Homo sapiens: one gene and its partners. The protein of the gene in region 1 purifies or fractionates together with the protein of each later gene. This does not show direct contact. Each region holds a gene or a part of one and is shown in the gene's direction. Other genes may lie near its edges.

What was found. Proteins that work in one complex are often made in the same cells at the same time.
Region 2: the proteins of MOB2 (region 1) and MICALL2 fractionate together in Homo sapiens (co-fractionation; one large-scale study listed by BioGRID). This does not show direct contact.
Region 3: the proteins of MOB2 (region 1) and ECHDC3 fractionate together in Homo sapiens (co-fractionation; one large-scale study listed by BioGRID). This does not show direct contact.

What each region holds. Positions count from the first base shown.
Region 1 is NC_000011.10:1,468,777-1,474,275, reverse strand, and holds the end of MOB2 (MOB kinase activator 2), read left to right. Parts: intron 1-2,856; coding exon 2,857-2,981; intron 2,982-3,787; coding exon 3,788-4,104; 3' UTR 4,105-4,819; downstream 4,820-5,499. UniProt on the Homo sapiens protein: Stimulates the autophosphorylation and kinase activity of STK38 and STK38L.
Region 2 is NC_000007.14:1,452,971-1,456,470, reverse strand, and holds part of MICALL2 (MICAL-like protein 2), read left to right. Parts: intron 1-1,043; exon of another isoform or gene 1,044-1,142; intron 1,143-3,500. UniProt on the Homo sapiens protein: Effector of small Rab GTPases which is involved in junctional complexes assembly through the regulation of cell adhesion molecules transport to the plasma membrane and actin cytoskeleton reorganization.
Region 3 is NC_000010.11:11,745,382-11,748,881, forward strand, and holds part of ECHDC3 (enoyl-CoA hydratase domain-containing protein 3, mitochondrial precursor), read left to right. Parts: intron 1-1,967; coding exon 1,968-2,089; intron 2,090-3,500. UniProt on the Homo sapiens protein: May play a role in fatty acid biosynthesis and insulin sensitivity.

The sequences.
Region 1 (5,499 bases):
AGTAAGAAAACAAAACAGTCCAGTTAACTGTCAGCAAAAGAAATGAGCAGACAGTTTGCCAAAGAGGGTGTAAGGATGGCAGCTGGGGCTATCCTGTGTTGTTAGCAATTAGAGAAAGGCAAGCCGAAACCATGGGCAGACCCATGTCCACCTGCCCACATGCCGGTCGGGACACTGGTGCTGGCCAGGATGTGGCCACCTGGGACTCTGTTCTGCTGGCAGGGACACAGGTGAATAGATGAGCACGCCATGTCCATCTCTGCAGGGGCAGTGTCTGGGCAGTGAGGAGCCGTGGACTTCCGACACGTCTGCCACGTGACTGCATCCCAGGGGCCTCCGTGCAAGAGGGGCCCAGATCGGGAGGATCCGCGCGGTGCGATTCCTTCCCGCGGCCCATCCCTGAGGAGCCATCCCCGGGGTGCTGGGGGCACAGCAGCACGGGTGTGAGGGGCCACGTAAGCCGCCGCGTGTCCTGATTGTGGTTATGAATGCGTGAGTCCACATGTGGATAAAAATCTTAGAACTATATACCAGAAACGGTTTACTGATAATTGAAGAAGTACAGGAAACAGTGGTGTTCCATCTTTCAGAACAGATGGGACAATCCACAGTGTCCCTGAGTTACTGCTTTCTCTGGGTTTGCATTGTGGAAAAGGGTTTCCGTCTCTAACCTCCACTGTTTTGAGACCTGTCGCACACCTGTGGCCAGGTGCATCAGATGTCAGCTTGCAGTGTCAGGGTACCTGGAGCCAGTGTCTGACTCCTGCAGAGTGCTGAGCCATCCTGGCTGGGTCCTCGCCCTGGAAACATGGGCCTCAGCCTGGCCCTTAGGGGCTGGGCCTCCCCTACACCATCTGGGAACCCCAGGACAGTGGGGATACGTGCGTCCTCTACATCATTCTCGAGGAGCAGATGCTGAAAGGACTGTTGTCTCTGCATTCTCAGAGGGTCTGACAGCCTGGTGGCGATGCCCACGGTGAGGCCTGCAGCCTGGGAAGGTGGGCGTGAAGGTCATGCAGAGCTGTCCCAGGGGGAGGACAGCACCTGAGAGGCAGGTGTGGGCACTGCATCCCCGTCCTCATGGCCTGTCCATTTTGGGGCTGCACTTCCCCTTCGGGTGGGCTGAGTCAGCCCCGCACAGGGCACACATGAGAGCTCCTGGTTTGCATTCTGGAGGTGGGTGCTGGGAGGGGGTTGTCCTAGGGCCCTGGTGGTGCTGGGAGGTGGCCTGATGGCTGTTTCTGTTGCAGAGGGCAGGGTGCCAGCATGCAGGGCTTGCAGTGTCATCCTCTAGCTTCTTGGTAACTCTGGTGACTCCCCCCGGGATCTGCAGTGCACAGGCTGAGGGGCTTCTTGGACACAGCAGAGGGGTGCCCAGAGACGCTGGAGGCCCTGTGCCCAGAGATGCTGGAGGCCCTGTGCCCGGAGACGCTGGAGGCCCTGTGCCCGGAGACACTGGAGGCCCTGTGCCCAGCTGGGAGGATGGCTTCTCTGGCTGCGCAGGAAGTGGGCGAGCCCCCCGTGGCCCTGTCTCAGCCCTTGGGGCGTCTCCCCAGGTGCCTTGGTGGGCTCTGGAACCCAGGGCACGATGCTTGGAGCTGGCCAAGAGAAGAGTGGCCTCCAGAGTGGAGCCTGGGTCCATCCTTTTCAGCACTGCCCCACCCAGGGCCATTCCAAGAGGAACCGTGACTGGATGAGGAGGGTGGGAGCGGTTCATGTGGAGCCTGGTACTGGCAGACTGCCTGTTGGTCTAGCTGGGGCAGTGGAGGCGATGGTGGTTGTGGCCATGGTGTGGAGGGGGCGTTTGCTCAGTGGCCAGTACTGCTCTGTGCTGTGTGGCCCATTCCCACCTGTGGTGAGCTGGGAGCTGGCTCTCAGGGAGGAAATCCCGACCCATAGTGTTGGCTGTGTCTCAGGTGTGAGCACTCCCACCACAGCACTCTCCACTGCCTGTGGGTGGGGCTGCGGCATCGGCCCCAGCATGCCCTGGTTCAGGCCTGCGGGGGCGGCCGCTGTGGGCATGGCCTTGGAGGACTGAGACCCAGCACCGTGGCAGGGGGAGAGGGGTGGTGGCTGCCAGGTGGGTGCCCTGGGTTTTGGTGTTGTGCTGGGGGAGGAGGGGTGTTAGGGGCTGGGGGTCACCTTATATTAACATGAACTAGAGCACACCCTTGTCATGGCTGGACCCAACAGTAAGAGGCAAACCCAGGGTGTCCATGTCCCTAGGATGCTCCAGCCTGCTCTGGGGCCACGAGTCTCACATGAGGACTGGCCGCCCTTGTGTACAGGGGCAAGAGGGGGCCAGGTCCCTGTCCTGGCCAGGCTGTTAGCCGCAGGTACCCACAGAGACCACCGCCCTCCTCTGCTTTCCCCGGAGAGGGGCTTGGCTTCTAGCAGTCAGAGCAGGGCTCTCCCAAAGGGTGGGGCCTGGCCGGCGAGCCACAGCACAGCTTCCTGGGAAGAGAAGGAGCCTCTGTGTGCTTTCAAAATACAACAGAAAAACAGCAGCACGCACTTGTGTAAACGAATACAACTGAAGCCATGTAGAAGCGGAGAAAACGAAGATGACCCCTTCATTTAATCACACACCTGTACAGCCATGTGGCTGGCAGGCTCCCCAGCGTGATCCTGGCGTAGTTCTAAGTCAGCGCAGGCAGACCCCTCCATAGAGTGCAGTGTGGTCCCCGCAGACAGTGTGTGGGGACAGTGTGCATGTCCAGGGAGGGAGACACCTGGGTCTGCCACACCTCCGCTGCTGGCGCCACCTCTGCCCGCAGATGACCTGAGCGGGTGGGACCCAGTGGCTGGGTGGGTGTGCAGCGGGCGCATGCCCTGACCGTGTCTCTGTCTCCACAGACAGTACTACTGGTATGACGAGCGGGGGAAGAAGGTCAAGTGCACGGCCCCACAGTACGTTGACTTCGTCATGAGCTCCGTGCAGAAGCTGGTGACGGATGAGGACGTGTTCCCCACAAAATACGGTTCGTCTCCCCCAGCACTGGGCGGTCATCCTCACAGTGGGGCAGGGAGCATTCAGGACGTGTCTGCAAGTGACCAAGCTCCTGTGCCGGGAGGGGCAGAGGCACGGAGGGCGGCAGCTGCACCACCCCAGTCCCTGCTTAGCATGGAGCCACCTGGGCTGTGGGGTGAGGCCGGAGCCCTTGGGCAGGGGTCAGCCCAGCCAGGGCCAAGGGCCATCTCCCTGGCCCTCTGGGCCATGCGGCTGCACTGGGCCCCTCTTGGTTTCTGCCGCTCATGCTGCTCTCACCGTCCAGCTTGTGGGCACTTGGGCTGGGTATCAGCCGCCAAGCCTGTGTCCAGATTTTGGTGGGATGTGGTGGGGCTCCACGCCACTCCCGTGCTGCCAGAGGGACGGCAGGGGACAACAGGAGAGGCCTGTGCCACCATCGCCACCTCCGTCCTGGCCCGGGAGATGGCCCCAAGTGTCCATCAGGGAGACACCACGGGGGCCCGAGTGCCCGATCACAGGCCCCTTCCTGAGGAGGTGGCCAGGATGGCCCAACGAGCTCCCAGCCCTCAGGGCAGGTGCAGCCTCCGGAGCCTGAGCACGCAGGGAGGTCTCAGCAGCCCAGACCCGGGGTTGGCAAGTCCCTGTGGTGCCTGCTGATGGGCAGAAGCTGTTGCTGCTGGGGCTTTGTAGGCCCTGAGGGTGGCAGGGTCAAGGTGTGGGTGGCAGGTACCAGACCCACCAGGCTGGGTGCCAGGGGCCTGGCCTCTGTTGGGGCCAAGGGATGTCTGCAGCTTGTGACACGGTGGCCTTCCCCAGGCAGAGAATTCCCCAGCTCCTTTGAGTCCCTGGTGAGGAAGATCTGCAGACACCTGTTCCACGTGCTGGCACACATCTACTGGGCCCACTTCAAGGAGACGCTGGCCCTGGAGCTGCACGGACACTTGAACACGCTCTACGTCCACTTCATCCTCTTTGCTCGGGAGTTCAACCTGCTGGACCCCAAAGAGACCGCCATCATGGACGACCTCACCGAGGTGCTATGCAGCGGGGCCGGCGGGGTCCACAGTGGGGGCAGTGGGGATGGGGCCGGCAGCGGGGGCCCGGGAGCACAGAACCACGTGAAGGAGAGATGAGCCCCCCGGGCCGGACAGGGGCACACGTGTGCAAAGAGACGGTGGTGTGTGTTCTCTCCTGCATCTGCGTGTGCACACATGTGCTGGGCACGCGTGTGGTGAGGTCTGAGAGGGCCCCGGGCTGCACTGGTGTGGGCTGCACAGGCACAGACGCAGACGGCCCCGGCCGTGTCCTGTGGCCCCCTGTCGGATGGATGCGTGCCGTTTGTAGAGAAGAGCCTTTGGGCCCATTCACTCGTTCAGCAGACACGCATGGGACTGATGCTTTGAGTTTTCTTCTGTGGGGTTTTCCTTTCTCTGGTCTCCGTGCAGCCCCTGCCCTCCCTCGGGTGCTGCTGGCCTCAAAGGAGGAACTCGTGGGGGGAGGGTGTGATTTGCAGACCTGGGTCTCTGCTCTGCTCTGGGGGTGGGGCTTGCTTTCACAGAGACCCTCCTTCCCTCTCACCCCTCCTCTCCCGGCCTCGCCAGGAGTCTTGGCTGTTGGCAGCTCAGAGGTGGGGGAGGCCTGTGGTGTGAGGTGCCCTGCACCTGCTCCTGCTCCTGTCACCCCTTCCTGCTGCCTCCTCCATGCCCAAGGAACACCCATGGTGCAGTCCTCAGGCAAGGCCAGGACGGGGCTGAGGCCCTGCGTGGAGATGCTGCACCAGCGGAAGGCTGAGACCCGCTTACCTTAGTTCATCTGTTCACTCGTAATAAAAAGAATTCTCTCAGGTCAGAGCCTGTGTACGTCTCAGCGTCTCGGTGACCGCCCCCCCCCCACACTGTGGGCATCCCGGCCACTTGCTTGGTGGGCAGCCCCAGGAGCAGGCACCCCGGAGGCTGCCCCGAGAGTGGGGGTTGGAGCAGACTCGCCCCTCACTGCCTGCGAGGGTCCACAGCCAGCCTGCAGGTGCCGTGGGGGCAGCACATACCCTGTGTCACTCGCTCTTCCCAGCTGCCTCAGCCCCCTGCCTCTCCCCGTGCTGGTGGCGGGGACCCTCAAATGTGGCTGCAGTAAGCTGGAGACATCTTCTCCGAAGGGCTCTGGGCCAGCCTGAAACAGTGGCTCTGCCGCAGGGGCCATTCCTGGCCGGGACAGCGTGGCCCAGGGGCAAGCAGGTTTGTGTCCTCAGCCTGGGAGTGGGTGGGCACGTGCTGCAGGGAGAGGGGCCCTAAGCTGAAGCCTGGAGCTTATCAGGACCTGAGTGGGCTGAGAAGCGGGAAGAGAGGGCTTCCAGGGTCAGGGCCTAGTTGGTTCAGACTTCAGGACTGTGGGCTCCTGCCGATGGCGCCTGCTGCACAGTGACCTCGGGCAGTCCGCCCCCCCCCCATCCCCCTTAGCTAGGGGGGCCTGCCCAGGTCGTGGTGCTCCCCTGGCCTCGGGCTCAGCCTGCATGATGCACCTGTGGCCAACAG
Region 2 (3,500 bases), on another chromosome or scaffold:
GGGGTTAAAGGGGTGCACCCCCACACCCAGCCGATTTTCATATTTTTTCTAGAGACGGGGTTTTGCCATGTTGGCCAGGCTGGTGTGTAACTCCTGACCTCAAGTGATCCATCTGCCCTCTTCAGCCTCCCAAAGTTCTGGGGTTATGGGCGCGAGCCACTGCGTCTGGCCTGTGTCTGGCTACTTTCACTCAGCATATTGTTTCTTTTTTAAATTGAGATGGGTTCTGGCTATATTGCCCAGGCTGGTCTTGAACTCCTGGCCTCAAGTAATCCTCCTGCCTCAGCCTCCCGAAGCGCTGGGATTACAGATGTGAGCCGCCGCGCCTGGCCCCTGGCTCTTTGGACGTGCCTGCCTCTGTGCCTTCATCACCCCCATCCCGTGCCCTCAGCCTCTGCTCCCTGCCGTACCTCTGGATGAGGTGGTGGCTGGGGTGGAGGTCTCCTCATGCAGCCCTTGGCTGTCCCTCCTGTCCCCAGTAGTCTTCAGGAAGGGAGGAAACGCGTGTGAGGGACAGGCACAGACCGGTTGTCCTCTCAGGGCAGCTCTGAGGTCAGACTCTGTGTGAGGCCCCGCCCTTGCCACCTCATTCCCCTCTCCTTCCAGTGAAGACCCCTTGACAGCAGAAGGGTGGACGTCCTGTCTCCCTGTCTGTAGCTCTGCCACCAGGAAGTCCTTCCCTTTGTCTGGCCTTAGTCCTTCCTGCTGCACGCAGAGAGCACTTCCGCTTGGCCCTCAGGGAGAGCAGCTGTGAAGGAACCAGCTCGGGCGCCAGGCCAGCCAGGTGGGGCACCCGGGCTCCTGGTTCTGCCTCTGCCCCACCGACCCCGGGTGGAGGGGGCGGGGATCCGGACATTCCTGTGTACCATGTTCCGGCTCCTTGAGCCACGTGTGACCACACTGGGGAGCCCCACAGGTACAGAGAGGTGTCCGTGAATCTCCGCTTTACGGCCAGGAAACAGGATCGCCCAGCCACGCCCACCAGGAGGTGGCAGGGTGGGCGGGTCCCCTGCCTGGTCAGCCTGCCTGTGCCCGCCTGCCCTGTCTCACCTGCGGCTGTGGGTTCTCTGCAGCCAGGCCTCAGGGCGCCTGCCCCCGGGCGCTGTTTCCATACTGGTGTCACAGGGCAGCTGGGCAGCCAGGTGAGCTCAGAAACCACCCAGAACAAACAGCCCCACCTCCCGCCTCACCTCCCTCAGCCAGTCAGCCTGTCGGGGCTGGAGCAGCTCTGCCATGGGCTGGCTCCTTTCATTCCTGGGCCCAAGCAGGTCTCCAGGCACAGCCCTCGGGCAGATGGGGCAGGGGGCACAGCGTGTCTGGGCTGGGAGGGAGCAGGGCTGGAGGGAGGGCAGGCGTTGTGCGTGGCGCAGGAAGCCGTCCAGCAGGTGGGAGAACATTGCGGCCTCCTTCTTGGGGTTCGTGGCTGGGGGCATTTGTCGGATTTGTGGCCAGGCCTTGGGAGGGTGTCGTGAAGTTGGGTCTCTGCTGCACCCTCAGTTCCAAGGCAGGGTCCCTTAAGTTTTCCTGGTCCCTGCAGCTCTGGAGGCGGGCTCAGGGCTGGGCCAGGAAGTGGGGGTGGCTGGGGCGGCCGCTGTGCAGTGCATGGAGCCCTCCAGCAGTGGCTCCCAAGGGTGGCGGGGCTCCCCGAGACACCACTATTGTTGGGGGCCAGGGGAGAGACTCACGCAGAGGCCCCCACCCAGAAGCTCCCAGGCAGTGCCCTCACTTCCTGGGCCAGGGCCGAGGGTGGGCTGACCTCCTCTCCCACGCGGGGTTGGGTCAGCAGGAAGCTGCTTGTGGACAGAGGCCTTCTGTTCCTGCCCCAGGGCCTGTAGCCAGACCTCTGTGGCCGCCTCTGGCCGGAACCCTCCAGGACGGGCGCGGGAGGGGGCTGCCTGTCCACCTACTGCAGGGGGACTGCCCAGGGCCCCACACTTTCCTTCCAGAGGCCCAGTGTGCAAGGTGGGGGCTCTGCGGCCTCCCCTCCCCAGTCGTCACCGCCCCCTGCCCACCCCCTCCTCTCCTGAGCTCTGCCTGGCCATGTCCTCGCTGTCTCTGAGGTTTGCTCCTTCCCCGAGTCCCCTCTCTGCCATCCCGACTGTGCCATCTGGTCCCTGTCTCTCTTGGGCCTCCCTCCACCATCTCCGCTGGGGTCTTCCTCTCTCTCTCCAGCTCTCTCTGTCCGTCCACCTGCCTCTCCCCACTCCCTCTGCTCCCTTCTCCGTGGGATTCTCTCCTGATGTGCTGGATGTGCCTCGGCTGGGGCTCCTTCCCTTCCAAGTCCTGCACCCCCCCGCCCTCCCCACTCCATGGCGGAATCTTGTTCCAGGAAGTAAACAGTGTGATGTCGGCCACCCAGGAATTTGGAGGGGGGTATACATTCCCAAGAGCCCCCAGAGGCGCCGGGGCAGAGGCCGGCTGGACTCCATGGGCTGAAGTTGATGGTCGTGGGTCAGTTAGAGGGGTGGTGGGGGCAGGTGTGGCCGGGCAGGGGCACGCACGGTGGAGAGTTGGCCAGGGCAAATCTTGTGACCGACACACAGACGGCAAATTCATTCCTTCAGCCAGTGTTGAAAGAATAAGTTACTGCCACAGAAATCTCACCAAGCACAGAACAAATGCATCACACGCATTTATAGGGCACCGACTGTGTGCCTGGCCCACGGTGTGTGTCTTGGAGCCGGGCCATGGTATACCTGATTTTAATTCTGAGGCTTCAAATAAGAGAAGATTAAACCCTGGAGGATGCCATGTCTCGGAGGTGGGCAACCTGCAGCCCCCATCCCACAGCCTGCAGGTTTGCAGCGGTGGCTGGGGCTGTGTCCCAGTTCCAGCCGTCTCACCATGGGTAGCTGGTCACTTGCTGAGTGGGGGGAAGCTGATGCATTTTTGTCCGGCAAGGACAGGGGTGTCCACCTGCTCAAGCTGCCCTTGCAAGGTCCCCCAAACGGGCGGTTTCAACAACGGAAAGTGTCCTCCCGCAGTTCTGCAGGCCAACGTCCCGGACGGAGGTGTGAGCAGGGCTGGGCCCTCCTGGGGGCAGGAGGGAGGATCTTCCCGGCCTCTCTCCTTGGCTCTGGGGTGGCCGTCTTCGCCCTGTGCCTTCACATCCTCTTCCCCTGTCAGTTTGTATCTGCATCCACATTTCCCTTTTATGAGGACACCAGCCATGGGACCAGGGCTCCCCGCAAAGAACCCTGTTTGAATTCTCTTATCTCCAAAGGAGGCAAAATGAATTCTCACCTCCAGAAAGACCCTGTCTCCAAATAAGGTCACGTGGTGGAATTGGAGGTTAGGGCTCCAATGTGTCATTTTCTTGGGGGGCTCCTGGAGACACGAGTGGGGTCTCCACCTGGCGATGTTGGTGGGGCTTGCGAGACGGTTCTGGCGGCGATTTCTGCCAGCATCGGGCCCCTGAGCTCAGCTGCTCAGGGGCCCCGGGGGTGTGAGCTCGGGGACAGCAAGGTGCATCTGGGGAGGGCCTGGCGGGTGCATCGGGC
Region 3 (3,500 bases), on another chromosome or scaffold:
GCACCCTCAATATTTGATGGAGAGGTTTATAAGCAGTTCTCCCACCACCCCCACCAAATATAAGTTTTGAAGTCTATCAGCAAATCAGTGCAAGTAATTTTTGTACTTAGGAGAGAACAATGTTTATAAGAAACAACAAGATGAATAGCACAGCCACTTGAAGACTGCAGCAACCTTGAAATGGTATTCCAAAGAAAGTGGTTATTCTTATTGAAATCAATTCAGTCATCAAACTTGTTTTCCGGAAAACCATGACACAGAATACTATTTATGGAGGATCCAAGTTGGCTGTACCGCGGAAGGAATATCAGATTCAAAAAAGATTGAGGAAGGTAGGAAACCTGTAGGTGAAAACTGATAGGAAACATATAAAATATATAATAACAATCTGGTGTTTGGCTCTTTGCCCATTTCTTGTAACAGCCAAAAATAAGACATTTCTGTGTATAAGCAGCAAGATGACAATACAGGTTATTTTATTCAGCATGTGGGATGCCTCAAAAGAGCAAACAGGCCCTTTGGACGCCAGCTTTTTGTGAGAGGATATGTCCAGAAGAGCCCTCTTGCTGTGTGGCTTGTACTTTTTTCCTTCATGTATCAGCCCACTTGCAGACAGCATGAATTGTTTTGTAAACTTACAGGATGCCACTGTAAGAAAAGACGGGCCTAGGTGCAGTAGCTCACGTCTGTAATCCCAGCACTTTGGGAGGCTGAGGCGGGTGTATCACCTGTGGTCAAGAATTTGAGACCAGCCTGGCCAACATGGTGAAACCTCAGCTCTACTAAAAATACAAAAATTAGCTGGGTGTGGTGGCACACACCTGCAATCCCAGCTACTTGGGAGCCTGAGGCAAGAGAATCACTTGAACCCGGGAGGCAGAGGTTGCAGTGAGCTGAGATCATGCCAATGCACTCCAGCCTGGGCAACAAGAGTGAAACTCCATCTCAAAAAAAAAAAAAAAAAAAAAAAAAAAGATGGAGTGGGTACAGAAAAATAGAATGAATGAATAAGGCCGAGAATTCTATAGCACAACAGGGTGACTATAGTCAATAATAATTTAATTGTACATTTGAAACTAACTAAAAGAGTATCATTGGATTGTTGATTTATCCTTTGTCATCCACAAAGGATAAATGCTTGAAGGGATGGATACCCCATCTTCCATCACGTGATTATTGCGCATTGCTTGCCTGTGTCAAAACATCCCATGTACCCCATAAATATATATACACCTACTATATGTACCCACAAAAATTAAATATAAAAAATTGGGTCGGGCATGGTGGCTCATGCCTATAATCTCAAAACTTTGGGAGGCTGAGGCAAGCGGATCACCTGAGATCAGGAGTTCAAGACCAGCCTAGCCAACATGGTGAAACCCCATCTCTACTAAAAATATGAAATTAGCCAAGTGTGGTGGCGGGCACCTGTAGTCCCAGCTACTCGGGAGGCTGAAGCAGGAGAATTGCTTGAACCGGGGAGGTGGAGGTTGCAGTGAGCCGAGATCTATAGAGGGAGTTATTTTCATTCTGGGCTCGTTTTCTAACTTTTTTCTAAGGAACAATGGAAAGAAAGCAGTGGAAGGTAGCCACTGTTTGTCAGATTTCTCCAGCGCCTGCTATCATGCTAAGCTTGCAGCCTCTCTGGGTGGTGTTGATTTTGGAACCGCTGTGCATTGCCCTCTCCGTGGAGGTGGCAGTCATGTTTCTGACAGCAAACATGGAGAAAAAGAGAAACAAATCAAGGGAAGAGGGAGGAAACCCAGCCTGCATTTCAGGTCGCCTTTTTCTTGTTTTGACTTGGCTGTAACTCCAGAGAGTTGACAGACCCTCTAAATTGGCACTAAGCCCCAGCAGTTCTCCTTTCTTGTCTGTTAAAAATACCTCCTAAATTAGACAGGAATCGCAGGGGTCCTCACTTGTTTTGACTGGTGTGTGACCCTGTGATTGTAAAATGTTCTTCACAGGAACATCGTCTTGAGCAATCCCAAGAAGAGGAACGCGTTGTCACTTGCAATGCTGAAGTCTCTCCAAAGTGACATTCTTCATGACGCTGACAGCAACGATCTGAAAGTCATTATCATCTCGGGTATGTATCTGATATCTGTCCTTAGTATTCTGCAGTGCCCACAAGAGCTTTCTGAGTCTTTAGTAAACTGGGGCATCCCTTTATTTAACTGGAGAATTGTTTTGAAGCTCCTTTACAAGAACATTAATTATGGAAAACACCTGTGTAGTTGGTGGTTTGGTCCTAACGCTATTAACTGCAGAATTTATAACAAAGATGACTGTTCAGTGAAACTATGTCTTTTCCTTTTTGTCAGATACTAAAACATTTCTGTACTTGGCTATACTGGTCTTCCCCTCAAAATCAGAGAACTGATTTCTTCATGGACCTTATAAAATGGGTTTAACCACTAATCCTTTGGCGCATTTGATTGGTCTGACTTTTCTTTTCTTACCAAGCTTTCGAACTGATATCTGCAGTGCCTTTAATGGTGCTGGAAAAGATGCCATATTCTGCTAATTTGTTTGCTTGCTCCAAAAGGAATTTTTACAGAATTATTTTTTCTTGTGATGATGGGACTGGTATAAATAATAGTAATATTAGCATTTTAAAGCATACACAAAAAAATATGATGATGATGCTTTGTGATGCTATGTTTGTTTGGCAAATCAAGCATCAGTGTTTCTGGAGGCAGAAACTCAGAATGTTACCATCTTATCCATGGTTAATCAAAAGTGTTCAACTGTTTTATATGGTGAAGAGAAAAGAAATTAGAACTAGTACAGTCCAGCAGCCATGTGGGATGTTACCTGGATACAGCAAAGGCAGTTAACGTCTTCTTTTTTTTTTTTTATTTGATACATAGTCTTGCCCTGTTGCCCAGGCTGGAGTGCAGTGGCATGATTATAGCTCATTGCAGCCTCAAACTTCTGGGCTCAAGTGATCTCCCACCTCAGTCTCCTGAGTAGCTGGGACTATAGGTGTGTGCCACTACACTCAGCTAATTTTTTATTTTTTGTGGAGATGGTGTCTTGCTATGTTGCCCAGGCTGGTCTCGAACTCCTAGCCTCAAGCAACATTGCCACCACTGTGCCTGGCTAATTTTTAAGGTTTTATTTTGCAGAGACAGGGGTCTCACTATAGCTTCTTAACTACATAATTACCTCACTTACAAAAAGACAATAATATTGCCTATCAATCAAGATAACTACAACAGCCAGGCATGGTTGCTCATGTCTGTAATCCCAATACTTTGGGAGGCCAAGGCGGGCAGATCACTTGAGGCCAAGAGTTCGAGACCAGCCTGGCCAACGTGGCAAAACCCCATCTCTACCAAAAATACAAAAATTAGCTGGGCGTGGGGGCAGGCACCTGTAATCCCAGCTACTTAGGAGGCTAAGGCACAAGAATTGCTTGAACCTGGGAGGCAGAGGTTGCAGTGAGCCGAGATCGTGCCACTGCACTCCAGCCTGGGCAACAGAGCAAGACTCTG